Regions from separate parts of the Homo sapiens genome. Here region 1 is linked to region 2. Evidence: fine-mapped expression QTL. A gene starts in region 2. The other region holds a variant in brackets. All regions are shown on one strand. Distances are from middle to middle. Region 1 overlaps AK4 (adenylate kinase 4). Region 2 holds the start of DNAJC6 (DnaJ heat shock protein family (Hsp40) member C6).

Region 1 (15,237 bases), 98 kb after region 2:
TACTCATATCCTTTTCTCCACTTTTCAATGGAAATTGTTTGTCTTTTTCTTGTCAGGTTGTGAAAGCACTTTGTATATTCTTACATGTACATGAGGTGGATTGAAGTCCAGGTTATATACCCTTCCGCTAGGAGGGTGAATCCAACGGCGGCTGAGACGATCTTTAAGTGTTTCAAATGGAATATTCAAACTGATCACTAGATCCACTTCACAGATTTTGTCCAGGGCTTCGGCTTGTCCTAATGTCCTAGGAAAACCTAAATGCAAAGAACAAAACAAGTGAAATGCAAGCTATTGCCCAGTTCCAATTAGTTCTTGAAACATTTTCAGTGACAGAATTAAATCTGCATATACCATTCTAAAAGGAGCTTTACACTATCTGGGTGATGGGATCATTTGCATCCCAAACCTTAGCACCACATAATAAATCCATGTCACAAACCTGCACATGTATCCTCTGAATCTAAAAGTTGAAATTATTTTTTAAAAATGAGCTTTAACCAAGAATATCTACCTCCATAAATGTAATATTAAAATAAAATATGCTATTCTATAACCTAGCTTCTGCATTTGGAAGACTCAAAGATTAAGGAATCATATGATAAAAATTTAAAATGCGCTAAACTAAAAATCACTAAACCAGTCCTGGCTCTAGTCCTTTCTCTGCTCTTAACTACCTGTGTCACCTCAGGCAAGTTACATCACCTCCATTTCCACTTCTGTTAAAAAAGTGAAGGGAAAGCATTTTATCTTACATCATTTTAACACTAGCCATTTATGAGTAGGTTCTTAGGTTAGCAAAAATAACTATATACATTTATTTTAGAGTCTAAATCAATTAAAGTATGATCCTCCATCCAGACCTTCACCTGAGTCTGCACTTTAACCAAGGTAGGCAATCTGATTAACAGCATGGTGACTATCATAAATACTGTATTGTACACTTGAAATGTGCTCAGAGTTGATTTTCAGGATTCTCGCCACACACATAAGAAATCATACCTATGTGAGATGATGGATATGTTAATTATTAAACCTAACTGTGGTAATCATTTCACACTGTATGTATCAAAGCATCACATTGTACACCTTAAATATATACACTTACTTGTCAAGTATACCGCGATAAAGCTGGAAAAAATTTGAAATTGTTTTAAGTCTATTTAAAGATTTTAAAAGGAACTAGAGTTTTTAAATCTATTGGGATAATGCAAAACTTATTCTTCCTACTTTTCTAAATGTGTGGAAATAACAAAATTAAAATTTGGGCTCATGGGCATCTCTTCCTTTTCTGATTTAAGTATAAGCTCTGGGTGACCTCAGGAGTTAGGTCATATGACCCCAAATTACACTTTTCTTCAGAGATTGACCTGTTTAAATGTAACTCCAGGTTTGGCTCTGGTGGGGCTACACAGTGGTAACTTTTTCCTAAACAAATCACTCCAGTTTATCTGCTCTGACAAAAATCTTGCTGGATCTACTATCATTTTCTAAAAAAATGTCTTTATATCCTAGTTAAAGAACCAGGTAGATGAAGAGCTGAAAGTATAATAAAAGATGCAACATCCAGAAGAGAAACTTTAAATCCATTCAGATAAGGATACCAGCCCATCTCTACCCTTTCAAAATTGGAAGTATCAAGATGACAACTTAAAAATGGGTATTCATGGCCCTGTAGCACTTACAATTCAAAGAATTCCTTTCCTTACTGCAGGAAGTTGGTGGCTCAAACATGAATATGCAGCACTGCATTGAAACCCCTAAGTCTGTGTGAATGCCAAGCTGATTTGAGTGCTCACTGAGTTGAATGTGACAAAATCCACCCACGCCACTGCTTCAGGTACCTATTGCTTGCTAACTCTCCAATGCTTCCTCCAAAGCCTTCCTTACTGCCTGTGAGCCATCCACATAAAGTCCCCTCTCAATGACTGTCAGGTTCTGCCTTTCCCTGGACAACTCACTCTTCACTACAATGTCAAGATGGCAATTGGAATAAAAAGTTGCCTGCAAGGCCAGGCACAGTCGCTCACACCTGTAATCTCAACACTTTAGGAGGCCGAGGCAGTGGGATCACTTGAGGCCAGGAATTCAAGGCCAGCCTGGGCAATGTAGAGAGAACCCATCTCTACCAAAAATAAAAATTAAAAAATTGCTTTTACTGGTGATGCATGCCTGTAGTTACAGGTACTTGGGAAGCTGAGGTGGGAGGATTACTTGAGCCCAAGGAGTTCAAGGCTGCAGTGAGCTACAATCACACTACTGCACTCCAGCCTGGGTGACAGAGTGAGATAGTGAGCTCCTGTCTCAAAAAGAAAAAAAAAAGAAGAAAAGAAAGAAAAGGAAGACAGAGAGAAAGAGAAAGAAAGAAAAAAGAAAAAAAAAGAAAGGTACCTACAGCCCAAACAACCTCAAGATCATCTATAAACTCTTTCCCCGCAAACCTCTGCCACATCAATGAAAAGCATTTTCTAAAGCAGTGGCTTCCAAAGTTATCTTCACTGAAGTACAGAAAGAAAATATTTGAACTTTGGGGAAGCGGGAGGCAGGGAGGGCTTGGCTCATTCTTTTAAAAGAATGTCGTATTAGTGGCCGGGCATGATGGCTCATGCCTGTAATCCCAGCACTTTGGGAAGCCCAGGCCGGTGGATCACTTGAGGCTAGGAGTTCGAGACCAGCCTGGCAAAACTCCATGTCTACTAAAAATACAAAAATTAGCTGGGCCTGGTGGCGCATGCCTGTAATCCCAGCCACTAGGGAGGCTGAGGTACGAGAATTGCTTGAACCTGGGAGGCAGAGGTTACAGTGAGCTGAGATTGTACCACTGCACTCCAGCCTGGGTGACAGAGTAAGACTGTCTAAAAAAAAAAAAGCACTGCAATCACATTAGTGAAACTGCATGGGTAAATAAATAATTTATACATAATTATCCATATATTGAAGATGTAAATTCAACCTTCTCACTGATAAATGTAAACAAAGAATTTTAGAGATCCCTCTTCTAAGACCTGAAAGCTTAGCCACAGTCTCTGCCTTGTGTTCTAGCATCACTAACTGTGACCTTGACAAGAAAACAGTCTTTATATCGGATAGAGGTTGAGAGCTGGGAGCGGGGGAAGCACTAGAAAAGAAAAGAACAGGAAGCTCTAAAAGATAACATAACATTAGTTCCTCCAACAAATAAAAGCTCAAATCTTATTGGCTAGTTTCTTTGTCTAATGAGGGTAACAAGCCAGTCTGCTCAGCTGAGCTCTAGAGCCCTCTGGAGGAGTAAAATGCAAAGTGTACAAAATAGGCTGAACTCAGCAAGAAAAATTTCAAAAACATGTTGGATAGCACCTGCTACCTACTGGACTCTCACATTCAGACCTGCTAAAGACCACAGATGATAATTAATTCCAGTGATTTAGACTACAAGCAACAGGTACCTAAAGCTGGTTTAGAAGGAACAACTATAGAAATAAACCATTCCACAACTTCAAGGGTTCTCCATTTGATGAGCACATCAAAATCACCAAGGAAGACTCAAAAGAAAAAATCAGGGTCGGACATGGTGGCTCACGCCTGTAATCCCAGCACTTTGGGAGGCCGAGGCGGGTGAATGACCTGAGATCAAGAGATCAAGACCATCCTGGCCAACTTGGTGAAACCCCATCTCTACTAAAAATATAAAAATTAGCCGGGCATGGTGGCAGGCGCCTGTAATCCCAGCTAATCAGGAGGCTAAGGCAGGAGAATCAATGAAACCCGGGAGGCGGAGATTGCAGTGAGTAGAGATCGTGCCACTGCACTCCAGCCTGGTGACAGAGCAAGACTCCGCCTCAAACAAAAAAAAAAGAAAGAAAGAAAGAAAAGAAAAGAAAAGAAAAAAAATCAATGATGATGGATGCTCAGATCCTGTCCCAGACTTTCCTAGAGTAGAACATCTAGGAGTGAGAGCAGGACTTGGGTATTTCTAATATTTACCCCGATTCATGACGAACCACCAAACTTCTCAGTGACAGCAACAGTGCAAGTATGACACTAAACACTTATCTGCCCCATTTTTCTGTCAGGCTTAACTCTACTTCTAAGTAGGTAACAAACCACTTTGAAGAACAAGTCGCCTCTATCTCACTTCATCAGAAGTGAGCTGGGAAGGAAAGTCCCAAACACATGCAAATCTTTCCAGATTTACGAACTCCCTAACTTAGTCACCTGTTTGTGACATTCTTCTCCAGAGGCTCTCATGTACTTGTGCAGTATCTTACCTCTAAGGAAAGTGGTGGCAGGGGAGGCAAGCATGGTATATTAGTAAGAACAATGGACCAGAAATAAGTCAAAGATCTGGGTGCCACTCACTATTTCAAAAGTGAGGAGAAATAGCCTTAAGGTAGACACATTCAGGACTCAATAACACATTAGGTATAAGCACAAGCTTTGGGAACAGACACACCTGGATTTAATGCCTAGATTTATCTCTACCTGTAATCAGACGCACCTGGATTTAATCCCGGGACTTTACCTAGCCGTAACTGTGAGAACTTTGGCAAGTTTCATATACTCTCAGATCCTTAGTTTCATCTACTCTCAGATCCTTAGTTTCATCAGATATGAAACAAGGGGCCGGGCACAGTGGCTCACGCCTGTAATCCTAGCACTCTGGGAGGCCAAGACGGGTGGATCACTTGCGGTCAGGAGTTCAAGACCAGCCTGGCCAACATGGCAAAACCCCATCTCTACTAAAAATACAAAAATAAGCCAGGCATGGTGGCCCACGCCTGTAATCTCAGCTACTCAGGAGGCTGAGGCAGGAGAATCACTTGAACCCGGAGGTGGAAGTTGTAGTGAGCCGAGATCGTGCCACTACACTCCAGCCTGGGCAACAGAGAGGGACTCCATCTCAAAACAAACAAACAAACAAACAACAACAACAACAAAAATGAGGGCACATTAGTTTGCTAGGGCTGCCACAGACTGGGTGGCTTAAACAATCCTGGAAGCTATAAGTCCAAGACCAAGGTATCAGCAGGGTTTGCTCCTTCAGAGGCCTCTAATTGATTCATAGATGGCTGTCTCTCCTGCTGCCTTCACATGGTCTTCACTCTATGTATCCACGTCCAAATGTCCTTTTCTTATAAGGACGCCAGTCAGATTGGATTGGGGCCCACCCTAATGACCTCATTTGAAGTTAATCACCTCTTTACAGACCTTCTCTCTAAATATAGTCACAATCTGAGGTACTGGGGGGGCAGTTAGGGCTTCAACACAGGAATTCGGGGTCAGAGGACACACCCACAACTCAGCCCATGACAAAGGGTAATGCCTACTGCACAGGGCAGTTTGAGGATTAAAAGTGACAATCCCTGTCAAATGTATAAGATGCAAAGTGCTGGGCACATGGAGAGTGTGCTGATTAATAAACGGTTGCTGCTGCTCTTGGTAGAGCTCACCTAGGAGCTCAGCTCATTTCCCAATTCAATAAAAACGCAGCAGCAGGAAAGAAAGGCCCTCATCCACCCACATTTAATTCCTTTTCTGGGTTTTTTCTAAGAGCTTGGGGAGTCCCTGGTGCTCTCTGTGGCAGTTACAGCTCAGCACAGGTAGTCATGAGTCACAGGGAGCTCAACCCCAGCACAGCACAGAACCTGGGCACAACACAGCCACTACTTCCATAAGC[C/T]TCCTTCCACTGGTTTTCAGTTTGCCCCTTTCATCACCTACCTGACTCTTTAATAGTAAAGCTCCTTAATCTACTTTCCTGATCTGGTTCAATACCTTATCACGGTGAGGTTTCATTTGGGTTACAGATGGATAAATTCAACACAAAGACTCACTCTTAAGCTGTTGATAATACAAGTGTACCTTGAGGTAGCAACATGGTATAACTTCCAAGGAACTAGTGCACGTGCAGGCTGTGTTAACTGTAACTAAGGATCCAAATCAAGAAAAGTGGCAGCTTTGTGGTATTTTCTGTAGTGAGTGCCCTTTTCTAGAAGCATTCACAAAGACAAGACAACTGTGCCTTGGAAGGAGCTGGACTACATGGCTTCCAAGTCTGCAACTCAGCAAACATAGCCTTTATGCTTCACATATACTAAACTGTTCACAAAGCATTTCTATAAATTTACTTACCTCTTACTCTTCTCATTAACCCTATGAGGTGGATAGAGAAGTTATTAGCCTCAGTTTAATTAAGCTTGGATTCAGTGAAAGCCAACAGCACAATGCATATGACATCTGGTCCTTAGATTTCTGCTAAAGTGTTCTCTCTTTCTATGCAACGATGCTGCTGTATCAGGCATATAAAAAGTAATTGTTAAAAAGAATCCTCCAGCCTGGGCAACATAGTGAGACCTCATCTCTACAAAAAGTACAAAAATTAGGTGGGCGTGGTAGTGCCCGTCTGTAGTCCCAGCTACTTGGGAGGCTGAGGTAGAAGGATTGCATAAGCCCAGCAGGTTGAGGCTGCAGTGAGCTGTGACTGTGCCACTGCACTACAGCCTAGGTGACAGACCAAGATCCTGTCTCAAAATAAAATAAAATAAAATAAAAAGTTGGGTGGGTGAGCATGGGTGGATCCTAGGCTGAGCACAGTGGCTCATCCCAGCACTTTGGGAGATTAAGGTGGGAAGATCACCTGAGCCCAGGAGGCAGAGGTTGCAGTGCACTGAGATCGCGCCACTGAATTCCAGCCTGGGAGACACAGGGAAACCCTGTCTCAAAAAAAAAAAAGAATCCTAAAATGTTACCCTGTCTATCTTTCTTCTACCTACCTAAAAAGCAGGGCATCATGGTGGCATCCTTATAACACAGTTACCATTTGTAGAGCATCCCTTATGTGCCAGATATATTACATGCAGAGGAAAAGCCAAAATTGTACAGGCTTGCAAAGGCCTACCCATCTGGGCCCCTGTCCTGCCACCTCTCTCACCTCATTTCTCTGTCCACGTCTCCGTGCCAGCCATACCGGCATCCTTGCAGCTCTCAAGCAGGTGCCCACCCTGGACATTCACAGTTCATATTCCCTCTGCTTTTGCTCCAGATACCCATGTGTATCCTCAGCTCTTCCAAATCTTGGCTCCAGTGGTGCCTTGTTAAGACTTTTCTAACTGTCCTGTTAAACTGCACCTCTACCACACGCCAACACTCCTATTCACCCTTTATTTTCTTTTTGTTTTCCTTCAGAATATTCATCACCATTTGCCATATATGATTTACCTTATTTTTTAAGTGTTTCTATTCCTACCAGAAGTAAACTAAATTAGAGTAGAACATTTTAAGTTCTTGTTTACTGCTATAACCTTAGTGCTGTAAGCGTGCTTTGCACACAGTAAGTGCCGAATGAAAATATTTGTTGAATGAGTAAATATTATCTCAAAAGTAACAATAATTCTGTCAGGTAGGCCTTATCCCCATTTTAAAACTGTAAAAACCAATGCTGGGAAAAGTGAAGTGACTTGCTCAAGATCACATGATAAGTGACTAATCTAGCTTTAAATCAAGTGCTATTTGTCTCTACAATCACACGCCATGTACCACACCATGCTGTCTTCCTCCTGAACAGAAAACTGCAGACTGTGAGAAGCAAATTCTCAGACAGGGAGAAATGCCTGATCCTGATGTCTCTGACAGGCAGCTTACAAAACGACTTGAGAAATCTAAATCTTGTATGGCTTCAGGAACCGCCTGATCCAGTGCTACACGCACAGACCAGATTTTCTCCCCACATACACACAACAAATGTTCTGCATCTTGCTTTTTCTCTTTGGAGATTTTTTTCTTCATATTACATATTACTGTCTCATTCTCTTCTGCAGAGACAGGGTCTTGGTTTGTGCCCTAGGCTGGTCTTGAACTCCTGGCCTCAAACAATCCTGTTGCCTCAGCTTCCCAAAGTGCTGGGAATCATTCTCTTTAATAACTGCAGAGTACAGCATGGTTTAGATAGAGCATAATTTAACCAATCCCCTAATGGTGGACATCCAAGTTGTTTCCAGTCATACTGCAATGAGCATCTTTGCACATGACCTGAAACACATGACTAAGGAAAAGTTGATTCACAGGAATATAGATCCAGAGGCAAGCTGCCTATGTTTGAGGTCCAGCTAAGCCACTTACTTGTGACCCTGGTTGCTTAACCTCTCTGTGCCTATGAAAATAGTAATACCTAATTCATAAAGTCATTGTGAGAAATAAGCAAATTACTATATGTAAATTCCAGAATAGTGGCTGGCTCAGGATAAATTGCATGGCAGGGGGCGGACGGTACTGGGAAAAAATGAAGGCAATGTGGGACTGGAGGTAAAAAGACAAACAGCAGGTTTGAGAAGAAAGATATGAAGGATAAAGATAGATTTGAGCTTTTAGAAAAGGATGAAAGACACACTAGGAGACAGAATAATAATACCACCACCACCATCACCCAACATGAGATTTTCACATAGGAGAAAGTCCTCGGTAACAGAAAAGACAAGAAAGAAAGTAGCATCCTAAGGGGAAATCTAGGTTTTCTTTAATACAGAAAGTGGAGACTTCTGCAAATAGCATGTGTATGTGGCGAGGAGGGTGGGGGAAACTGTTAAGGAAAAAGGATTCCAGAGGGTACGGTGAGGAGGGGAATCAATAATAAAGAAACCGAAGCGGATATAAAAGAAAGGAGAACAGGAGGATGGCTTACCTTCCTCTCAGAAATGAAAGGCAGAGTTGGAAGTGACTGGCCTCAAAGAGTGCCACTTTCAGGGCGAGTGTGGTGTCCTAGACCCAGCAATGGTCACAGAGGCCCTGGGGATAGGCTAAGGCTGCCTCCAAAGTTTGGGGTGCTGTGTCACAGGTCCTGAAAAGGGGCTCTCTCTCACTCTGGTTAGACATAAGGGCAAGTGCTCTACCAAGTAAGTAGTAGTATTTATTCATCTACAAGACTTTTAAAATATGGATACTCAGCCGAGAAGAATGGTCAACACCTACAGTCCCAGCATTTTGAGAGGATTTCACTTGAGCCCAGGATTTTGAGACCAGCCTGGGCAACAAAGTGAGATCCTGTCTCTACAAAATAATTTAAAATTAGCCAGGCATGGTGGTATATGCCTTTAGTCCCAGCTACTCAGGAGGCTGAGGCAGGAGGATCGCTTGAGTCCAGGAGGCCAAGGCTGCAGTGAGCCATGTTCATGCCACTGCACTCCAGCCTGGGTGACAGAGCAAGACTCTTATCTCAAAAAAAGAAAAAAAAGAAAAAGAAAAACATACTTTTCAGCCACAGATCCACTTTAAGGCTTCAGGGCATACAATATGAAATGGTGTCTTAAATGATGGATTCTATAAGGTAGCATGGGAGCTTCAGCATTCTTTAAATTGATCTACATCTGTGTCTCAAGTTGGGCTAAACAAATCAAAGCAATTCAGGTGTACTTCTCACACCAATCAGCCGCCAAGAACAGAATGTCAGATAAGGTACAGTCAGACCAGCACATTTTAAAGCATTTTTAGCTGAGGGTCATTATCCAGCCAGTAAGATCCCCTGTCGGCAGGGATCACTGACCAACTGGAGTAGAATGCACCCTCAAATTTTGTCAACAGGTGGCAGCATTTATAATTTTTCCATTTAGAGAGAATTACAAGTTGAAGTATGCTTTTACATTTACTAAAAGTAACACTCCAAGAAAGGCTTTCTAAATGACTGACTAGCGTTATTCTAGGTTCCTTAATTAGCCCATTCCAAATGTGAATATATTCCATTAATTGTTGAAGAAGTAGAAATGCCAAGAGCTAACGTAAAATAAAGATCATGTTTAAGCATGGACTGCTTGCTTTCCTCCCTTTAGCTCCTCAGAGGGTCTGTTCCACCGCATGCTTTATCATGCTTCCACACCAGACTATCGCTATCCCTCATCCCCTAACCAAGCCTAGAAAAGCTGCTCACTCTTTTCATTCAAACAGCCAATCCAGATTGAAAGCTGAAATTTTATATTTTTAAATTTCTTCCAGAATCTGTCTTGTTATATCACTAATTATGACATCTACAGGTTGTTTTTTTTAAGACCCCCCCCACAAAATATTTACTAAGTGCAGTGAGATATCATTAAATTCCTGACTGGTATTGTGTTCCCAGCAGTGCTGGCCACTGGGCCTTGGCACCTGCTCCTCCCAGCCATGCCAAGAACCCAAGGAAGGGCAGCTGAAGCAGGAGGTGCTGCGGCAACAAGCTGAGGCAGTGGTGGGGAATAGAAAGTAGGACACTTCTGTTTTTCTAATTTGGAGCGCATTCACTCTGCAGGAAGGGTGCAGAGCCAGAGTCCACCACCACGTTCCCAGGCAGCAAAGCAAGCCCTCCGCCTGATGGAAATGAAAGGGCAGTTCAGAAGGGCAACTTCCAACATCCGCCTGGGTTTGGCAGCTTGTGAAAAGGCTATGCGACATCAGCCCCCTTCCTACCTCCATTAAGATCTGGAGCTAACATAGTTGCTTCGGACCGCCCATCTCTTCCCAGTTGTTGAATAAGTAAGAACCAAGTTACAAATGCAAGCCATTGTTCATGACAATCAATCACTGATGATTAGCTTAAAGTTGAAAGCAGGTGGTTGGTTATTCTTCCACAGCCTTCCCTAGCCCAGGAGTTCAAATCACTCACATCACCAACTGGAAGCCTTAGTAGCAAATTAATTACCACCAAAACCTGCTTCATAAAGGCCTTTTCTCTCTCCTATCGTATACTTTCCTTATCTGTTTACACAATGTTTATTTGTACATGTATCAAAGACCTCCATATTCCATGTCATCCAGTTATTATTAACAGATGGTGAAAAGAAGCAGCAGCTGTCCTACTACGAAAAAGTAAAAAAACAACAAATGCCAGCAAGGTTGCAGAGAAACAGGAACACTTACACACTGCTAGTGGGAATGTAAATTAGTGCAGCCACTGTGGAAAGCACTGTGGAGATTTCCCAAAGAACTTACGACTATCAGCAAAACTATTATTGGGTATACACCCAAAGGAAAATAAATTGTTCTACCAAAAAGACACATGTACTTGTATGTTCATCACAGTACTATTCACCATAGCAAAAACATGGAATCATCCAAGATACCCATCAATGATGGACTGGATAAAGAAATGTGGTATATATTCCATATACCATGGAATACTATGCAGCCGTAATAAGAATGAGATCATGTCCCTTGTAGCAACATGGATGCAGCTGGAGGCCATTAGCCTAAGAGAACTAACTCAAGACCAGAAAACCAAATACCATGTGTTCTCACTTATAAGGGGTAGCTAATCATTGAATACACATGGGCACAAAGGTGGGCACAGCAGACAACAGGGACTGCTTGAACCAGGACCAGGGTGCAGGTTGGAAAGCTACCTATCAGGTACTACGCTACCTTGGTGACAGGATCATCTGTACACGAAATTTACCCGTGTAACGAACCTGCACATGTATCCCCTAAACCTAAAATGAAAGTAGAAGGAAAAAAAAAAAAAAAACAGCAGCTGTGCTCCAGATGTCAGCAACTGAAGTTTATGCTTCCTCCTACCACTCTGTGAGCCCCACACTCCCCACAGTGCTGAGAGCTCTAGAACCCACTTCCTGCTCATGGCAGCTTCCTGGGACACTAGTTATAGATCCCAGGGTTTAAGAGATTTGAAATAAGTGGGTCCTGCCCTCAGGAAGCTTATAGGTTAATAGAAAAAGACCCCAAAGCTGAGATGGGAGGACTTCTTGTGCCCAAGGGACTGAGGATGCAGTGAGCTGTGATCGTGCCACTGCACTCCAGCGTGGGTGACAGGGCAAGATAGAGGCAAGAAGGGAGGTAGGGAGGAAGGGAGGAGGAAGGAAAAGAAAGAAAAAGAAAAAGACTTTAAAAACCTAGATATGCTACAATCACTACTTGGTGATCCACTGATAAGCAGAAGATAAGTACTCCAGAAAATTTGGTTTTAAACCACAAGTGTGCATCTTCAAAGAGGCTTAGGGAAATAAAAGATAAATTCCTTTCAGGTAGGAATTCTTGGGGAAATTCCCAAATGGCTTCACTGAGATCCTCTGGGATCATCGCGAGGATTTTTCCTGAATAAAGACACAGATAAAACTGTTACCTTATAACCCTTGTTCTTAAGTAAGTTATACTAAAATCACTGAGCCCTTTTCCCATAAGGGAAAATGCATATTCCATTGAGGAAGGAGCTGTCATCTACAAACCCCTTGCTTAAAGCCTCTTCTGTTTAAGAATTCTGCGTGGTTTGTTTCTTTTGTTTTGTTTGAGACAGGGTCTCGCTGTCACCCAGGAAGGAGGGCAGTGATGCGATCATAGCTCACTGCAATCTCTAACTCCTGGGCTTAAGGGTTCCTCTTGCCTCAGCCACCCCCCACCCAAGTAGCTGGACTACAAGCAAACATCGCCACACCTGGACATTGGTTTTGTGTGTGTGTGTTTGTGTGTGTGCGCACGCACGTGCACACACGCACACGCAGATGGGGTCTGGCTTTGTTAACCAGGCTGGACTCAAGTGATTCTCCTCTTTGGCCTCTCAAAGTGCTGGGATTATAGGCACAAGCCACCGCGTCCGGCCTGCTTGCTTGTTCTTTGAATATAAGTCCCCATACACAAATTAGGGGAAAACCGGTCCCACTGTATCTCAATTAAGACTAAAGAAATTTGTAAATGATTTCACCATAGGCCCATATTTTTATCCCCAGAAAAGTAACAGAATTCAAGTATACCTTCTAAAGGCTCAGCTACAGATTGCAGGCATGACCTGTCTGCAACTGGATGTACAAGTCTTTACTATATGCCAAGCACTGTTATAGGTACTGGCAATATAGCCATGAACAAAATGGATATAACCTGTGCTTTCTGGGGCCTGCACTGGGGGTGGAGGGATAGGGGAGGAATGGAAAATCGAATATGCTCATAAATACATAATGTCACATTATAATAATGTAAGGAGAGTGACGTAGGTAGACAGAATGGTACAAGACAGACCTTCTGAGGAAGGGTTATCTGTGTAGGGATCTGTATCCAGCGATCCACACGGATATCTGGAGACAGGGCACTGCCGGTAGAGGGAACAGTAAGTGCAAGGGCCCACAGCACAGGTGCATGGCACATACAGGTTGAAAAATAATCAAACAGTTATGGAATATAAACAAAGTTTCATTCTCTCCTGCCCTCAAAATAAAAGATATGAGTGTGCCTGAAAGTAGAAGGAAACACAGAAGCAAGAAAAATTTAAAGTATAAAGACAAAAAATAGTCAATAGAATATCCAATATAACTAGTATTATTGAAATAGAAATCTGAACAAATGACAAAAAGGATATAACACAGGAAAACTTCCCTGAAAGGAAAGAACTGAATTGCAGATCAGGAGGATACACTCTATATAGGACATAAATAAATAACAACAACATCAAGTTATTCTACTGACTTCAAGTATGAAGAAATAACTCTTTAGAAAGTCTATACGGGGTGAAAAAAAATCACCTTGAAACAGGTGGAAAAGGGCTGTGCATAGTGGCTCACGCCTGTAAATCCAAGTACTTTGGAGAGCTGAGGCAGGAAGATTGCTTGAGCCTAAGAGTTCAAGACCAGCCTGGGCAACATAGCAAGACCCTGTCTAAACAAAAAATAAAAAACTAGCTGGGCACAGCAGCATACACCTGTAGTCCTAGCTACTTGGGAGGCTGAGGCGGGAGGATCCAGGAGTTTGAGAGTGCAGCAAGCTATTAACACGACTGCACCATCGCACTCTTGCCTGGGTGCCAGAGCAAGACCTGTCTCTATTTAACAAATAAAAATAAAATAAAATGGGGAACCAGGCCAGAAGAAAATGTAACAATGGTTGCAATGTTTTGAAAGACACAAGAACAACTCAAAAATATCAGTTAGCTAATTTTAAAAAATTAGACATTCTCAAACATATTATGAGCTCTTCTGCAGGGAGGGGAGAGGAGGGAGGGACGAAAAAAATATCCAGCAAAATCCAGTCAACCCAGTGTTGAATGAAAAAGCTGTGTTAAACAGCAGTGCACCTTTACTCAGATACAGTTCACGTACCATACAATTAATTCATTTAAAGTGTACATTTCAATGATTTCTAGTATATTCACAGAGATATAACCAAGAGATTAATCAAAATAAAATGAGTAGAGGTGGGTAAAAGAACCAGTGCACAGAATTCACCTAAATTTTTTTAATGTAAGAAACTGAGGAATTACATTTGCAGAAGAAAACTGTAATAAATTTTTAATGACAAAAGCCAACAAAAACTGGGAGAGATGAAGGGTAAGAGGAGGTTAAAGGAAGTATAAGTTCCCTCAGGGTTCACTGTGGAGACAATGCCTCCTGTCTAAATTTGAAATGTGAATTTAAAACAAAAGAAAACAAATATGTCAGTCTCCCAGTGGCTTTTATAATGTTGAAGAGCTCTCACAGGAATTAATATCCTTGGTGATGAACAAAGATTTATCTGAAGCTCCGTAATAACTCCTTCAGGTTCACTTTAGTTTTGTTACTGTTAAATTTGAGTAAAATTAAGGCTAGGTATGGTGGCTCACGCCTGGAATTCCAGCACTTTGGGAGGCCAAAGCGGGTGGGTCACTTGAGGTCAGTAGTTTGAGACCAGCCTGCCCAATATGGTGAAACCCTGTCTCTATCAAAAATGTAAAAAATTAGCCAGTCACGGTGGTGCGTGCCTGTAATCCCACTACTTGGGAGGCTGAGGCAGGAGAATCGCTTGAACCCAGGAGGTGGAGGTTGCAGTTAGCAGAGATTGTGCCACTGCACTCCAGCCTGGGCGACACAGCGAGACTCCATGTCAAAAAAAAAAAAAAATTCAGTAAGATTAAATACTTTTTTAAAGCATATAAAGTCTGATGCCTTCTTACACATTTCCATCTACATATGCGCACAGAGAGGTATCTAGAATGATGCTTTTCAACTGTTCACCCTGGTTGTTTCTGGCTGGTGGAATTTCAGGTGATTTGTTGCTTTCCGTTGCATTTTTCCATATGGCTTGGATGTTTTATAGTGATCATGTATTACAGAAAAAGATAAAATTAAATTCTCTGCAGTTTTCCACATCTCATTCTCCCTTTAGCCCTAATCAACCTGTCCATCTCTCCAAAATCTGGGTTCTCTTACTGGTGACAGGACAATCAAGAGTTTTACATTGTTTTGTTTTACATTACTACACAAGGTTTAATGGAGGAGGGGTGATTTTTTTTTTCTTTGAGATGGAATTTCACTCTCATTGCCCAGGCTG
Region 2 (15,237 bases):
ACTGAGCTACTCTTTCAAAAGCTTCCAAGTAAATTTCAGGAATAGCTGTTTAATATACAATAACTGTAATTTAGTTTTTTCAGAGTTACACCTTTCGCAACAAGGAAATGCACAATCTAAACTCCAGCATTCTTCATCCATCTCAAACATAGCTTTTTTCCAAAAGGAGTTCAAGATGGTGAGCACAGATTTAAAAAAGCAGTTAAGTTAGCACAAAGCTTATATACAACTGCAGACGGCCAAAGATGATACAAAGAACTTTTAATATTAAACCTGAAAATGGCTAAGATTAAAACTTAATGACACCGATTAAGAAATACACAGATCTATAGATGAAAGTCATCTATTGTCAGTTCATTAAAAAAATTGTATACATTTTGAGTTTCCTTTTTTGGCTAAAAAAAAAAAAGTGACCTTTATGATGAATCATACAGTAGATTGTATTTGTTGGTCGAAAAAGCACAATCTTTTGGTAAGCTAATTCTTTCTTGACATGTCTATATTAGAAAACTGTTAAGGATCTAGGCTATATATTAACCATCTTTCTTTCACTTCCAGTGTCTTTACATATGAAAAAATGCTCATTACTGAATTGGTCTAGCTTTCGACCAACAGTTACATTTCTCTCAAACCTGGCCTCATTTCTGTTAAAACCTAGCTGTATGCTTATTTTTAGATTTGGATGGGCATATTTCATTATAAATGCCCTTTTAAAAATTCAAAATCCATTCATGCTTTTGTGCATCCAACAAGTATTTATCAGGCTCCTAATAAATGCCAAGCAATGACAAGACTACAAAGGCAAATAAGACCCAGCCTTGCTCTGAACTTTACTTACAGACTAGAGGGAGAGACAGGCCAGGCAGCATGTCACAACTCAATGTGATGAGAGCTGTGATACGGAAGTAAAGGCTGCTGAGGAGCATGGAGAATGACCATTGCATGCAGCCTGCGATTAAGGAATATCTGAGCTAAACCCTGAAGAATGAATAGGAGATAACCTGGAAAAGTGGGTGTCCAGGGGTCTATGGGATAAGTTGGCCTGAGTTGAGAGAACAGTGTATGCAAAAACATAAAGATGGAGGTGCAGGCTGGGGAGGGGATCTACCAGTGGAGCGACAACAAGTTTTGTTGGGCCAGCTTTCACAGGTGCCACAAAGGGCTTCTGATGTCCTGTTAAGAATACCTTGGATTTTATCCTAAGAGCAGTGGGGATCCATTTTCATTTGCAATATATTTTTCCAAAAATATATAATGCTTCATCAATTGTATTGTTCTCTCAGTGCCGTATCAAGTCTTAATCAGCTTTATTCAATGCTGTTTTTGCTGTTTTCATTTCCAGTGTTTTTAAATTCTTTATATTTAAGTAAAGAAAACATATTTGTACTTTCATGGGATTAAAAAACAACTGAACTCATTTTGGTTCTCTCAATCACTCCTATTTTTCCTTGCCTCAGAGAAAGAAGCAAATAAAAAAATTCACCACTAAATTCTTCATTTGCAATCGTATGGGCATTTCTCTATGGCATTTTACTCAATATAGAATAAGTAGAGCCTGTGTAACCTCACGCAACTTAACCTCTCTGTGCCTTAGTTTATTCAACTATAAGATGACCGTTACTATCATTTACCTTATAGGATTCTTATGAGGGTTAAATGTGACACCATATGCAGTGTTTAGCATAATCCCTGAATTATAATAATTAAATTGTAGCTATTTTTGTCATTAAGCATTATTGAACAATGTACATATATGAACATGGTTAAACTTTGAATTTGTATTTTATTATAATTCTAATGGTATACACATACATATACATATATGTGTAAAGCATATATATTTACACACACTCATGTTGTACGTTGAAAGTCCTTCCAGAAACTTTTAGTAGAAGTTATCTCTGAGGCAAGGACCTAAATGATCAGGGAGGGGAGAGAATACTTAACTTTTCTCATTTTATTCCTTTCTGTAATCTTTAATTCTTTTTTAACCTTTTATAATAAAAATTGGTGAAAACCCCTGTTGTGCAAAATAATAAAAAAAAAAAACATTATTCTCAAAGCTTAGGATAATTATATGGAAATCATTTTATATAGAGAAAAAAGCATGTGGAACTTAGGTTTGATTGGCCTAGAAAAGAGGAAAATTAAGACTAAGAGAGAATTAGTACCTGTTCTCAAAAATCTGTTGTCTAAGGGCTACCATGTGAAAGAAGGATTAGACATAATTTGTATCTAGAGAACAGAAAGGCTGATTTTGCCCAAATAAAAAGAACTCTGCACTGATGAGAACAGTTCAAAGACACTGCCCCAGTAGCTAAAGCTCCATCACAGAAAGTGTCCACCATTGGCTACCTGGCCAACTTTCCGAGATTTGGTTCCAGGGATTCCCCTTCCAAATCTATGAAATCTGGCAGTCTCCAAGCATTTGAAATTTGAAACTTAAATTGACGTATCTTATTCTGTAATCCAGTAACTGGTGCATCTTTAAACGATTATCCAGAAACATCCAAACTATAACCACACATTAAATAAGTTATATAAATTGGCTGGGCACAGTGGCTCACGCCTGTAATCCCAGCACTTTGGGAGGCTGAGGCAGGCGGATCACCTGAGGTCAGGAGTCCAAGACCAACCTGGCCAACATGGCGAAACTCCGTCTTTTCTAAAAGTACAAAAATTAGCCTGGCTGGTGGTGGGTGCCTGTAATCCCAGTTACTCAGGAGGCTGAGGCAGGGGAATTGCTTGAACTAGGAGGAAGAGGTTGCAGTGAGCCGGGATCACACCACTGCACTCCAGCCTGGGCAACAGAGTGAGACTCCGTCTCAAAAAATAAAAAAAAAATAAAAAATAAGTTATATAAATAAACTTTGCCTCCAACCTACAAGACCCTTCAATGGGCAGATATTCTTAAGAAAGGATTATTAGTACATATATGTTTATTATACTTCCATGAAGTATACAATTATCCAAACACGTATCTCATAATGTTGAAACCTGGTTCAAAATGTGGATGCTGTGTTTAAACACTAACTAAAATAGAATTTGTTAAAGGTAATTTTTGTTTCCAACCAGACTCACACTACATGGTATTTTAGCATTGTTCATTATCCTTATTCTTTTTTTTTAATATATACAATATTTTGTTTATTTATATATGTGAATTTCTATATATTTAAATATATAGAACAAAGCCTAAAAAGTGAGAATCAAAAGAGAAATCCTTACCTATCATTATACTTATTCTTTAAAAAGTATTAATATCTGTTTCCAGATTTTAATTGGACTACTCTTTTTCAGTTTGTCATTATGAACTTGGTAAATTAAGCCCAATATTGGAACACTTTAGCAGCTCAATATTGAAAGTTCTACTTTTGTGGTTCTACTTTCCCTGAAAAGTGGGGTGCACACAAGAGAAATAGGGGGTTTTCGGCATTGGGATAGTGCAGTGCCTTTGAGATATGACAGGATGACCTTTAAATGACAACCTTTTCTAGAGAATAATTTGAATGAAGAGAAAGTGAGCCAGGGAAGGCAGAGAGCTCTGGAAGTCACATCTGGCTAGGAGACTGCTCTGGTATCTACCACTTGAGAGGCTGTTGACTTAGAAAGCCATTACATTCCTCTGAACATGTACCCCTCTTTTATCTAAAAACAGGGGGGAAATCAAAGTAGATAAAAATGTTTCCATTTCAACAATCAGTTGATATTGTGTCTACCCAAAAGTTTAGTTCAATGGGGAAAAACTCAAACCTTTGAGTCAGAAGACCTAAGTCTGGCTGTCATTATCTATTCTACCTTTGATAGGTCTCCTACCACCTCTGAGAATAAGTTTCTTCATATGATAAATTGAAAGGGCAAGATACAAAGTAAAGAAAAACTGCAAATGTATTTTTATATTGTTTTCAGCCTCAACTAAAGCTCTGTGGTAAGAACAGCTCTTATGATTCCACTTTTATAAATGGGAACAGGCCAAGCATGGTGGTTCATGTCTGTAATCCGAGCACTTTGGGAGGGAGGCCGAGGTGGTCAGATCGCTTGAGCCCAGGAGTTTGAGACCAGCCTGGGCAACATGGCAAAAAACCCCATCTCTACAAAGAAAAAAAAAAAAAAAATTAGCCAGGCATGGTGGTTCATACCTGTAGTCCCAGCTACTCAAGAGGCTGAGGCAGGAGGGTCATTTGAGCCCAGGAGGTCCAGACTGCAGTGAGCCATGATCACACCACTGCACTCCAGCCTGGGCAATGGAGCAAGACCCTGTAATCACAGCACTTTGGGATGTCAAGGCGGGCAGATCACTTGAGACCAGGAGTCCGAGACCAGCCTGGCCAACATGGCAAGAGCCCGTCTCTACTAAAAATACAAAAATTAGCCGGGTGTGGTGGTGCACGCCTGTAATCCCAGCTACTTGAGGGGCTGAAACACAAGAATTGTCTGAACCCGGGAGGTGGAGGTTGCAATGAGCTGAGATCGCACCACTGCACTCCAGCCTGGGTGACAGAGCTATCTGTCTAGAAAAGAAAAGAAAAAGGTTACTAGGTTTTTCAGCGAGTAACAATAATGCAGAGGTTTGATCCCAAGTCTCCAAGCACAGACACATGCTGCTTCCCCAACCTATTTAATAAAATTCTGGGGAAATGAAATAAGAGAATTGTCCAAGTGTTCTATTATAAACAGTCTTACAAGTTTAAGGTATTATTAAGACTAAGCTTTAAATCATGTAGCGAGATGTCAACATATTTTTTCCACTCATTAATATTTCTATCAGAGCAAAAGTCCCATAAACCACTGATCCTATCCAGCATGTCACAGTACAATCAGTTGAATAAATGGGCAGATTACTGCCACTTTAGAAATGATCCATGAACTTAATTAGATATACTAAACAAATGGATATATTTACACTGCACAGGCCACACTTTGAGGATCTTAGAAGAAAGAACTATAATTAGGCAAGACATATAGTTGTACTAGTAAAAGAATCCTACTCTCAGAGTCCAATCCTTCATTCAAACCAAACAAATCATTCTCAGTTGAAAATATGCATCAAAATCATTGTAAGATACCCTGTACTTCTACAACAAAGCCACAATATTCCCCTAATAAAATATAGGAGTGAATGATGGATAAGGGGAGGAGAAAAGGAATCCCTGCAGCCTCTTCACACAACACCACTTTGATCAAGTTTAAGAATCAACTCCTGGCAATAGCACTTTAGAGATAACAATATTCTTAATGAAACACTTTCCCATCACAACAGATTATTAAAGCAATCCATTATTCTTCTCTCCACCTATTAAAAAAGTCTGATTTAGTGAAAAAGACAATCCTCAAAAATCCAGGACTTACCATAGGCTGCTCTGTGTTATAGTTACTGCCCCCACTGAGAGTCCCCTAGAGGCCAGAAGGATCTCATTCACTACTGTGTTCCCTCACAGTGCTTGGCACATAGCTGGGCTCAGAAAATGTATGTTGAACTTATTCTACAATGTAACATATTTCAAAAACCAATTTCAACTCTTAAAATAATAATCCCTATGAAAAAGGAAAACATATGTATTTCATATTTCTTTCATTTTCCTGAAGTGAGGCTCCTTCACACTCATTTGGAATATGTTTGTTTTCATTTCAATTGTTTACATGCTCACTACATGTAAACATTATTATGGTGGCATCATTCAGAGAACATGAATCTTTTTAAGATTTAAAGGAGATTACATCCAGTCAAAAGATGGATTACACTTTGATATATCACAGATTTGAAAAAACATACATTGAATAACCACATACAACATCAATAAAAAAGTCCTGCCTGGGCGCGGTGGCTCATGCCTGTAATCCCAGCACTTTGGGAGGCCGAGGCAGGCAGATCACCTGAGGTCAGGAGTTCAAGACCAGCCCGGCCAACATGGCAAAACCCCGTCTCTACTAAAAGTACAAAAATTAGCCGGGCATGGTGACAGGTGCCTGTAATCCCAGCTACTCAGGAGGCTGAGGCAGGAGAATCGCTTGAACCCGGGAAACGGAGTTTGCAGTCCGCCGAGTTCGCATCCCTGCACTCCAGCCCGGGCAACAGAGTGAGACTCCGCCTCAAAAAAAAAAAAAAAAAAAAAAAAAAACAGTCCTGAAACCATCAATCCCTTGGGGATCATTTTAGTTTTATTTAAAATGGTCTAAGAGAATGTCCCATCAATATCTTGGTTAACTTCAATAAGAGCTTCAATGAGTAGAATTTGTTTTCAGCCCAGGACATTTGAGCATCTGTGGACAATATTTCATCCCACTTTGGGACAAGGAAAATAGAAAATAATAGCCCAAGGACAGCCATTACACAATTAAAATAAACAAGCATTTGTTTGCAAAGCAGGGCATTTAAATTCAGTTTGATTTCATTACTGTTCAAACGACCCCATATGAATCTTTCCTCTGGAATCCTCAGTTGTCCAGTATTAAAGTTACCAGTGTAGAACCAACCACTGAGGACTTCAATTATAAATATCTCTGTAAACAATTCTCCGAACCTGGTTCCCTGCAGAAGTAAGCAAATAGCTATAATAATACTCCTAGTCCAACATGGATATATTAAATGACTGTTTTGCTATTGAAATCGCAAATGCCAACAGCAGTTCCAAGAGAGGACTCTAACTTGCCAAACCTTTTATAAAAGACAGTTGCAAGCCCCGATACAAAGTTTAGAGGAATTTCCTTGTCCCTACATGTAAAGGTTTATGAAATCTGTACACTCAAGCAAAAGGACAAACAAGATCAAAGCCAACACATGAAATAAATTTCATTGTGCAAACAGTAAAAGCTGTGTAAAAGAGCTCTAGATCCCAGGTTAAAAACTGCAGGAGAAAGGTAACATTAACCCTAGCAGACGGCTGAGTTAAGATGTGGCAGAGCTTTACAGAATTGCAAATAGCATCAGCATTGCAAGAATAACAATTGGAATAAATACCGTCTGCATGCTGCAAAAACAATCAACGCACATGCTCCTTCACCTCTCCCCCTCATCCAGCTGGGCAGTGAAAGCAGCTGCCTCTCCCAGCCCTCCTCCCAAGCCGTTCTTCGCCCCACCCGCTCCCCTCTCTTCTCCACCCCTCCCCTCCTCCTTCCCTCCCCCTCCCCGCCCCCAGCTGCCGTATTCAGCAGTCTAGAGAGATTAGGAGGAGCTCGCTACAGTCTCTGGGCCTCAGGACTGATCTAACGTTTCGTAGCTCCCTGGATGAGAGAAATTAGAGACTCGACACCCAGGTGGTATTAGAAGCCTTCGCCTCCAGCCCGGCTCTCTCGCAAACCGGGGCTGGGGGACCACGGGGGGGCCTCGGGCCGGGCGACTGGGAGGCTCCGGAGGCCGCGCGGGGCTCAGCGCTGCACTCCCCTCGGGCAGCGCTACCTGAGCTGTCCATGGTGCTGGCGCGGTCCGGAGGCTGTCGGGCGGGACTCCGCGCCGCTGCCCCGGCGTTCACTCTCTGCTTGCCGCCAACCCCGCCGCTTCCCGCACTTAAGTCCCCGTTACTGTCCACCAGCTGCAAAGATTCATAACCATCGTTGCTGGTCTTTTTCCGGTAGCTCCCGAGGAGGCTCATGGGCAAGCCCGGAGAAAAGAGAAAATAATCAACCTGGGAAGCGAAAAGGGAGATGGAAGGTGGAAAGGGCTGAAGAAGGAATTAAAAAAAAAAAAAAATTAAGTGCCCGACATGACGCAAAGAGGAGGGAAAAGAAGGAGCGGCCACCGGAGAGAAGCTTCGCCGGGCGAGGCGAAGCCGCCGCCCTGGGCTGAGCTCGGCTCGGGGCGCCGGGAGGAGGGAGGGAGGGAAGGAGACGCGGCCGGGCGGGGGCGCGCGTCCTCTGGGCCAACGCCGCGGAGCCGCCCGGCCCTGCCGAGCTCCGGGCCCCAGGCCAGCACCTCCTGGCTGAGGAGTGCCCGGAAGCAATCCTATAGGTGTCGCCGCGTCGCCCCGCCGCGCAGCAGGGCAGCGCCAAAGCCGCTGGCCCGCGGGGAGGGAAGGAAAGGGAGGTAGGAAGGGAGGGGAGGTTCGTGAGGAGGGGGGTTGAAGGGAAACGGGGCGGGGTGGTCGGGGGAGGGGACTACTACGACGTGGGTTGGGAGGGTGTGTTCGCACGCGTGTGACAGAGAAGAAAGGGGCGAGGTATCTCGGCCTGCGAAGCTTTGAGGACCAGGGGTCTTGTGGTAAAATCCAGACACACCCATTTCATGCAACTTAGCCTATTTTCACCGGAAGATTCCGCCAAAGCCACCAGGACGGTAACCGTCCTAGAGAACTGACTTGTAACTCAATTCAACAGAAAAAGAATGCATGTTAAGTGCCAGAATATATCTATGCTAGGATATAAAGGAAGAGCAATATTTTGCACATTCTCCAGAATAGGGATGATCCCTAAGGGAGATATCAAAGAGTTGGGTATTCTAATACTAGGAGGCAGCGTCCGTTCTGCCTAGAGAGCAGATGTGACTGTTTAGAACTCTTTGTTGAGCGAATAAACTGGGGAGAAGGGCAAGGTTAAGTCCGACGCATTTTCAGATCCGCCACCATTTACCTTAGGACCTGGAGAAAAGACTGTTTCAGTTAGCTAGCTTGAAGGCCTGCTTGGGAAGCAAGATAGACAAGGATTTTTTTTCCCCATCCTCTAGCCTCACGCCTTATTTTTCTTTCACAATTCTGGCCAAAGAAAGCAGTAACTCATAATCAGAAGAGAATTTATCATGAAGTTAATTAAGCTGTGTACCTAATTTTGTATCTGTCATCGTGTATTCTTAAAAGAAGACTCCGACATTGTATAAGTTCTGGATCTGAACAAAACCTGGATAAACTCTGGTAAGTCTTAAAATGTAATTATCGAATGTTTATTTTCACCTAAAATAATAAGATTTCAGAAGGATTGCTCATTCTCATCATCTTAGGTCAAGATCAAGTAAGTCTTGGTTAAAAATTATCATTTTCTCTACTAAAACTTGGAGGGACTAAGTGAGGCGCCCGTCAAGAGTCATTTGACAGAGTTTCCTCACCAAAACAGGAAAAAAGTACGTGCATGTAAAATGTACTTGAGCCCATACACAAAGCCAGCTTTGCTTTCTTCTCATCTTACATGGTTTTCTCTTGCTGTCCTTATATCAATCACCTAAGGACACAAAATCAAACAATAGCATCTAAGAGACTTCAGTCCAGATGATTTGGGTCTCAGAAAGTTTCCGGGAAGCTCTAGCTCTACACAGTTCTACATAAAATAAATTGGACTAAGAGACATTTTCCTGTACAAGGATCACCCAAACACAGATTCTTGTAGGAAGAGCATCAACCAGAAGAAGTCCAAAGAAATGTTTTCTAAATCCTTCCAGTCCTTCTGGGGAAACCTAAACTTCCTGGCCAGTTGCTTTCCCAACTGCATTCTTTGATGAGGTATGGTGTGACCTGAATTGCAAATCAGAGTTAATGCTCATTTATAACAAGATCAAACAATCTGAATGGTGGCAGGAAAAACTGCAATAAAAATTTTAAAACAAATTTTTATACTTTCAATTTTCCAAATCTGTCAGATTGAATTATTTTAGTTACTTGACTAAAGTAATAATTCTGTGAAGTCTAGTAAATCTTTTCCCATAACATCTTAAATAATCTTTCTCTGTACTTTTTCTTTTAATTCATTACAGACACACAGGGACAGTAAATACCTAGTGTTCATCATGTGCCCTGACAAATGCTGGACTATAATCATTGGATTAATAGAATTTAGAACCAGCCTCAGTGACAGACTGAGACCCTGTCTCAAAAAATAAATAAATAAATACAGGATCATTTTTGAAAAGTGAAAATTATTATTTTCAAAAAGAGCACTTTCAGTTATTTTTGCTCAACTTGCAGACATATTGCTGAAAGAAATTATAGATGAGACATATGCCTTTGTATTTTTCAATATCTATCTCTGGAGTTTGCAAGTGTAAAGAAAAATCTGAATGGGCTATAAGAATTTTATCTTTATACTTAATATAAATAAAGTCAATCAGGATAACTATTAATAATCCTATAAAATTGAAGATATAAGAAGCATATTAAGGCAGGAAAATACAATAACTAGGTTAATTTACAACAGCCTAAAAACTAGGGCTTGGGCCTAAATTTGGATATGCACCAATTTCAACATTAAAATTTTCTTTACTGTGCTAAAGATCAAATTCATATACTTATCAATGAATATCTCACTGTTCTACTCTATAAAACAAGCATAATATGAGTACCATCATTATATAGAAGAATTAGATTAGTACCTAACATATATATATATATATATATATAGAGAGAGAGAGAGAGAGAGAGAGAGAGAGAGAGAGAGAGAGAGAGAAACAGATTGAGAGAGAGAGTAGTACTTAACAATTGTTCTCTATTACCATTATTGGTCTGTCTTGGGTGCAGCTTTAAGCTCAGCGCCTGGCAGTCTTAGTTTTTCAAATGGGAAAAGCTCAATAAAGGCTAAATATTATTTTTTCCAGGGATATCCTAATGGAAAATTGTCTTTGTAACTTTGAATGAGAATTTGGGCTTAAGGGAGGTGGCACTGGTCAAACACAAGGTGAACATTTACAGCCTAACTCTTGGTTTTCCAAACTCAAGACTACTTCATAACTTATCTCAAAAATACTACATCATACATGAGACAACGGCAAAGGATAAGATGCCCTCTTCTGGGGACAGCAATCATTCCCTTTGTCTTTTCTCTTGCTGCCTTCAGGTGCTTTATTAACTTGATGAAGATTAGTGACACTGAGGAATACTGAGGAACCAGGCTCTATTCCACCCCATCCCCTTCATACACACCTCATTCCAAATGCTATCCTGTCACAGCAGATGCCACATCACTTTTGGGGTGGGCTAAGAGATCAAGGTATGTATGCCATGACCTATGTAGGATTTTGATCTGTGATTTTCATTTCCAGAGAATATAATACATTGATTAAAATTGAAGTTGCCAGCCAGGTGTGGTGGCTCACACCTGTGGTCCTGGCACTTTGGGAGGCTGAGGTGGGCGGATCACGAGGTCAGGAGATTGAGACCATCCTGGCTAACACGGTGAAACCCTGTATCTACTAAAAATCCAAAAAAATAACCAGGCGTGGTGGCAGGCACCTGTAGTCCCAGCTACTCAGGAGGCTGAGGCAGGAGAATCGCTTGAACCCAGGAGGTGGAGCTTGCAGTGAGCCAACAAAGCGAGACTCTGTCTCAAAAAAAAAAAAAAAAAAATTGAAGTTGCCTATGATTGATTCTTAGTTCCAATGACTCCTGGCTCTATGACTTTGGGCAAGTTACTTAACCTCTCTGCCTCATTTTTCTCCTCTGTAAAGTGAGGATTATAGTAATGCCATCATAATAAGGTTATAGTAAGAAGTAAATTAGTTCCTAACATATAATAAGTGCTTAACATATGCTATCTATTATTACTATCATTCCACTTCTTTTTAAAATGTCACTTTTTCAAAAATGCAACTTCCCATCTGTAAAATTAAGTTTAAATCTGCCCAGCTTACCTAAGAGATTTGTTATCATTATGACTATGATAACATAAAAGCAGTTTGTCAAATGTGAACTGATTGTTTTGCCCTGAGTTTTTAAATATTCACGTGTATGTATTTCCTATTGGATTTGGACTCTTTGAGGGCAAAAATCCATGTTTTGTTCATGTTTGTGTCCCCCATGACACTCCAAAGAGCACCTCGCTCTCATTAGATATTGAGTAAATATCTACTGAATTAATGAATAAACAAAAATGTCATGGCATTACCTAGTCCAGTGATTTAAACTATATGCTGTAGCCGATGAGTAAATTATAAAGTATTTTCATAAAAATGAAATAGGTTGGAAAACATCAGAGTTTGGAACGCAGTAAGATATTGTTTCTTAAAATATTGTTTTGGGTTTGTGTGATATGTATGAGTGTGTGTATGTTTCTGCTCAGTAATGATATAAATGTATTTCTCACTGTGTGTCCTGATTATAAATGTTTTTGAATGTCTATGTTATGGGACAATCTCTGGTACTAAGAGGTCCTAGTGTTCCCAATTATGAATGTCCTATACACTGTGACATCTGAATTCATTTGGCTAATTGGACCACAAAGAGTTTTGGCTAAGCAGACAGTAAATGAAGCCAGAGCTTCTACTCTGTTCTCTCTGTTACAAAATATATTATGATCAGGTTTCTAAAATGCGTCTCTTCAATTTTCTGTTTTAACAAACATAAATCAATGCACAGTATTGAAACTTACTTTGGCAATGTGCCTGAGGGCCATAATCCAGATTATCTCCTTATTGAATAAGGCCTATAGATATACATAGTGCAAGGCACTTCAACTGGGGAACATCAAGCCATCTCTGACTCCCAGATGTGTTTTGTCGGTCCTGTACTTCTTAAAATGAAAAACATTTTAGTTTAGATGCCTTTACAGAGGGTATATAGGCTCCAGTCTGAGGACCATAGTTCACTACTACTTCCCAATGTAGAATACTCAGCCTCCTCCACTCATTCCTATTACCAGTTAGCCCTTGCAGGCATTTGAGTTTGAGACCTGCAGTGTAGTGGCAAAACCTTAAGGAGAAATACCCCCAAGAGAGATGCCAAAAGACACATCTTTAGGCCACAGTCCAGAAGAAAGCAAAATAGACCGAGAATCCTCTCCTGACTCTGCTCTTAATCAGCAGGGTGGCCTTGATCCATTCTCCTTCTCTCAGCAGTAAAATCGAAGATGTGGAATTACATGATTCTCTTCAGTTCTCAAAACTTTAGTTGTCACTTCCCTCTCTCCTCCAAATGATGTCCATAGGGGAAAACCATAGTCATTTAAGTGCTACAGTTTGCTGTGTCCCAGTTAATCAAGGTTTTGCTATAGAAATGCATGCATAAATAGTAGCAGCTGTCAAGAGCGACATATAAAGCAACACACAAGATAGAAGAGGAGGTCTGCTGGAAAAAATCGGGTGAGCTGATGGATGACATTTAACAGAAGAAAATCTGAACTATTCCTATAATGTTTCTTAGGAGTGGGGATATCTGTTCTTGGTGTTTGATGGGGTTCTGGGTCTTCCAGAAAATAGGACAAATTTCCCAGGTAGGGCTTTTTTTTTTTCTTTAAGATAACCCAATATCATGAAACCTGTGTTTCCTTGATGCTCTAATAGTAACAAAATAACTGCCATTGATTATTTATCATTTGCCAGGTGCCTTACCTACCTTAAATCTAAAGATTTTATTCTTATTTTGAGGCAGACTTGGAGAGGTTAAGTAACTGGCCCAGGGTTACACAACAATCAGTTAGGATTCAAACCTCCATCTTTCTGATCATGCTTTGGCCACTGAGGCAGCCTAAAGAGGCAATTCCACTGATCAAAGTGAAAGCTGAAGGACATTTAGGTCATTCCTTAGATCTGACCTGCCTTACTAAGTGTGGTCAGTGGAAAATGGTTTGGGCAACTTATGGAAATTGCACTTTGGGAGGCTGAGGCAGGCAGATCACCTGAGGTCGGGAGTTCGAGACCAGCCTGGCCAACATGGTGAAACCCCGTCTCTACTAAAAAACAAACAAACAAACAAACAAAAAATTAGCTGGGCATGGTGCCACGTGCCTGTAGCTCCAGCTACTCAGGAGGCTGAGGCAAGAGAATCACTTGAACCTGGGAGGCAGAGGTTGCAGTGAGCCGAGATCATGCCACTGCACTCCAGCCTGGGTGACAGAGGGAGACTCCGTCTCAAAAAAAAAAAAGAAGAGAGAATCAAATGAGGCGCATGGAAGCACATAATAAACACTAAAGCCCTAAATACTGCATGTTATCAAATCTAAGAAACCATCCATTTTAAGTCACAACATAAGAAAAATATGCTACTAAAGAAAGTATGACATACTATCAATCTTAAGATACCCCAAGATTTCTTAAATGTTAATATGTTAAAAAACTTTTATAACCGATGTAACAAATGTTATTATTTGACCGTATATTAGTCTGAGAATATATTTGTCAATTTATTATTCACGTATTTTGAGCAACTCTGGCAGGTGAAGACAACACCCATCATGTTTTATGAGGTCTAGCACAGTGCCTGCCAAGTAATAGGTGTTCAGTAAGTATCTGCTAATTGAATGAAAATACCAAAAAACTTTATTTTGGAAGCCATCTTTAGTTTACAGAAAAAATCGCTCTGGTTTCTTTAATGAGCTCACTTAAAAAACACATTTCCATTTGCTAACATTTAACTTATCCTTGACTTTTCAAGGACATGCTCATAGTATAACAACGTTTGCCTTAGTTCATTTTGTGCTGCTATAATAGAATACAGGAGACTGGGTAATTCACAAAGAGCAGAGATTTATTTCTTACAGTTTCTGGGGCCAGAAAGTCCAAGATCAAGGAGCCTACATCTGGTGAGGGCCTTCGTGCTGCATCATCCCATGATAGAAGGCAGGAAGGCAAGAGAGGATAAGAAAGGAAGAGACAGGCCGGGCGCGGTGGCTCACGCCTGTAATCCCAGCACTTTGGGAGGCCGAGGCGGGTGGATCATGAGGTCAGGAGATCGAGACCATCCTGGCTAACAAGGTGAAACCCCGTCTCTACTAAAAATACAAAAAATTAGCCGGGCGCGGTGGCGGGCGCCTGTAGTCCCAGCTACTCGGGAGGCTGAGGCAGGAGAATGGCGTGAACCCGGGAAGCGGAGCTTGCAGTGAGCCGAGATTGCGCCACTGCAGTCCGCAGTCCGGCCTGGGCGACAGAGCGAGACTCCGTCTCAAAAAAAAAAAAAAAAAAAAAAAGAAAGGAAGAGACAGCAAGGGGGTTAAGGGGGAGGCAAACTCCCTTTAATCAAGAGTGCACTCCCATAGTAATGGCATTAATCCATTCATGAGGGTGGACCCCTTATGGCCTAATCACCTGTTAATGGTACCACCTATTACTGTCAGAATGGCAATTAAATTTCAACATGAGTTGTGGAGGGGATATTCAAACCACAGCAATGTTATACTGTAACATATATATTATATATATTATATATTATATTATATAATATATAATATATATAATATTATATATTAATATATCAATATAATAGTATATTATATTGATATAATATATTAATGTATATATTAACATAATATATAAATGTATAATATAATATATAATAAATATATATAATACGTATTATATATATTTTTTATATATATATATATATTATATATTAT

Evidence for each region. PIP is the estimated chance that this variant, and not a neighbour inherited with it, causes the effect.
Region 1: its variant is fine-mapped to the expression of DNAJC6 in whole blood (INTERVAL, PIP 0.98).

Annotation. Positions count from the first base shown.
Region 1 is chr1:65,203,774-65,219,010 of GRCh38, reverse strand. It overlaps AK4 (adenylate kinase 4), which reads right to left. Exons shown (of 5, transcript NM_013410.4): 3 at 85-257. Among named protein-coding and RNA genes, the nearest start is that of AK4, 63 kb to the right of the region's middle. RefSeq lists enhancers at 5,385-5,484, 11,474-11,553. The variant C/T (reference allele first, on the strand shown) is at 5,657.
Region 2 is chr1:65,302,098-65,317,334 of GRCh38, reverse strand. DNAJC6 (DnaJ heat shock protein family (Hsp40) member C6) reads right to left here and starts at 7,792. Exons shown (of 19, transcript NM_001256864.2): 1 at 7,397-7,792. The coding sequence starts at 7,589. DNAJC6-AS1 (DNAJC6 antisense RNA 1) reads left to right here and starts at 8,101. Exons shown (of 3, transcript XR_007066155.1): 1 at 8,101-8,840; 2 at 10,750-10,902. It overlaps LOC112268227 (a long non-coding RNA gene), which reads right to left and starts at 6,091. Exons shown (of 2, transcript XR_002958317.2): 1 at 1,187-6,091. RefSeq lists a silencer at 13,562-13,740.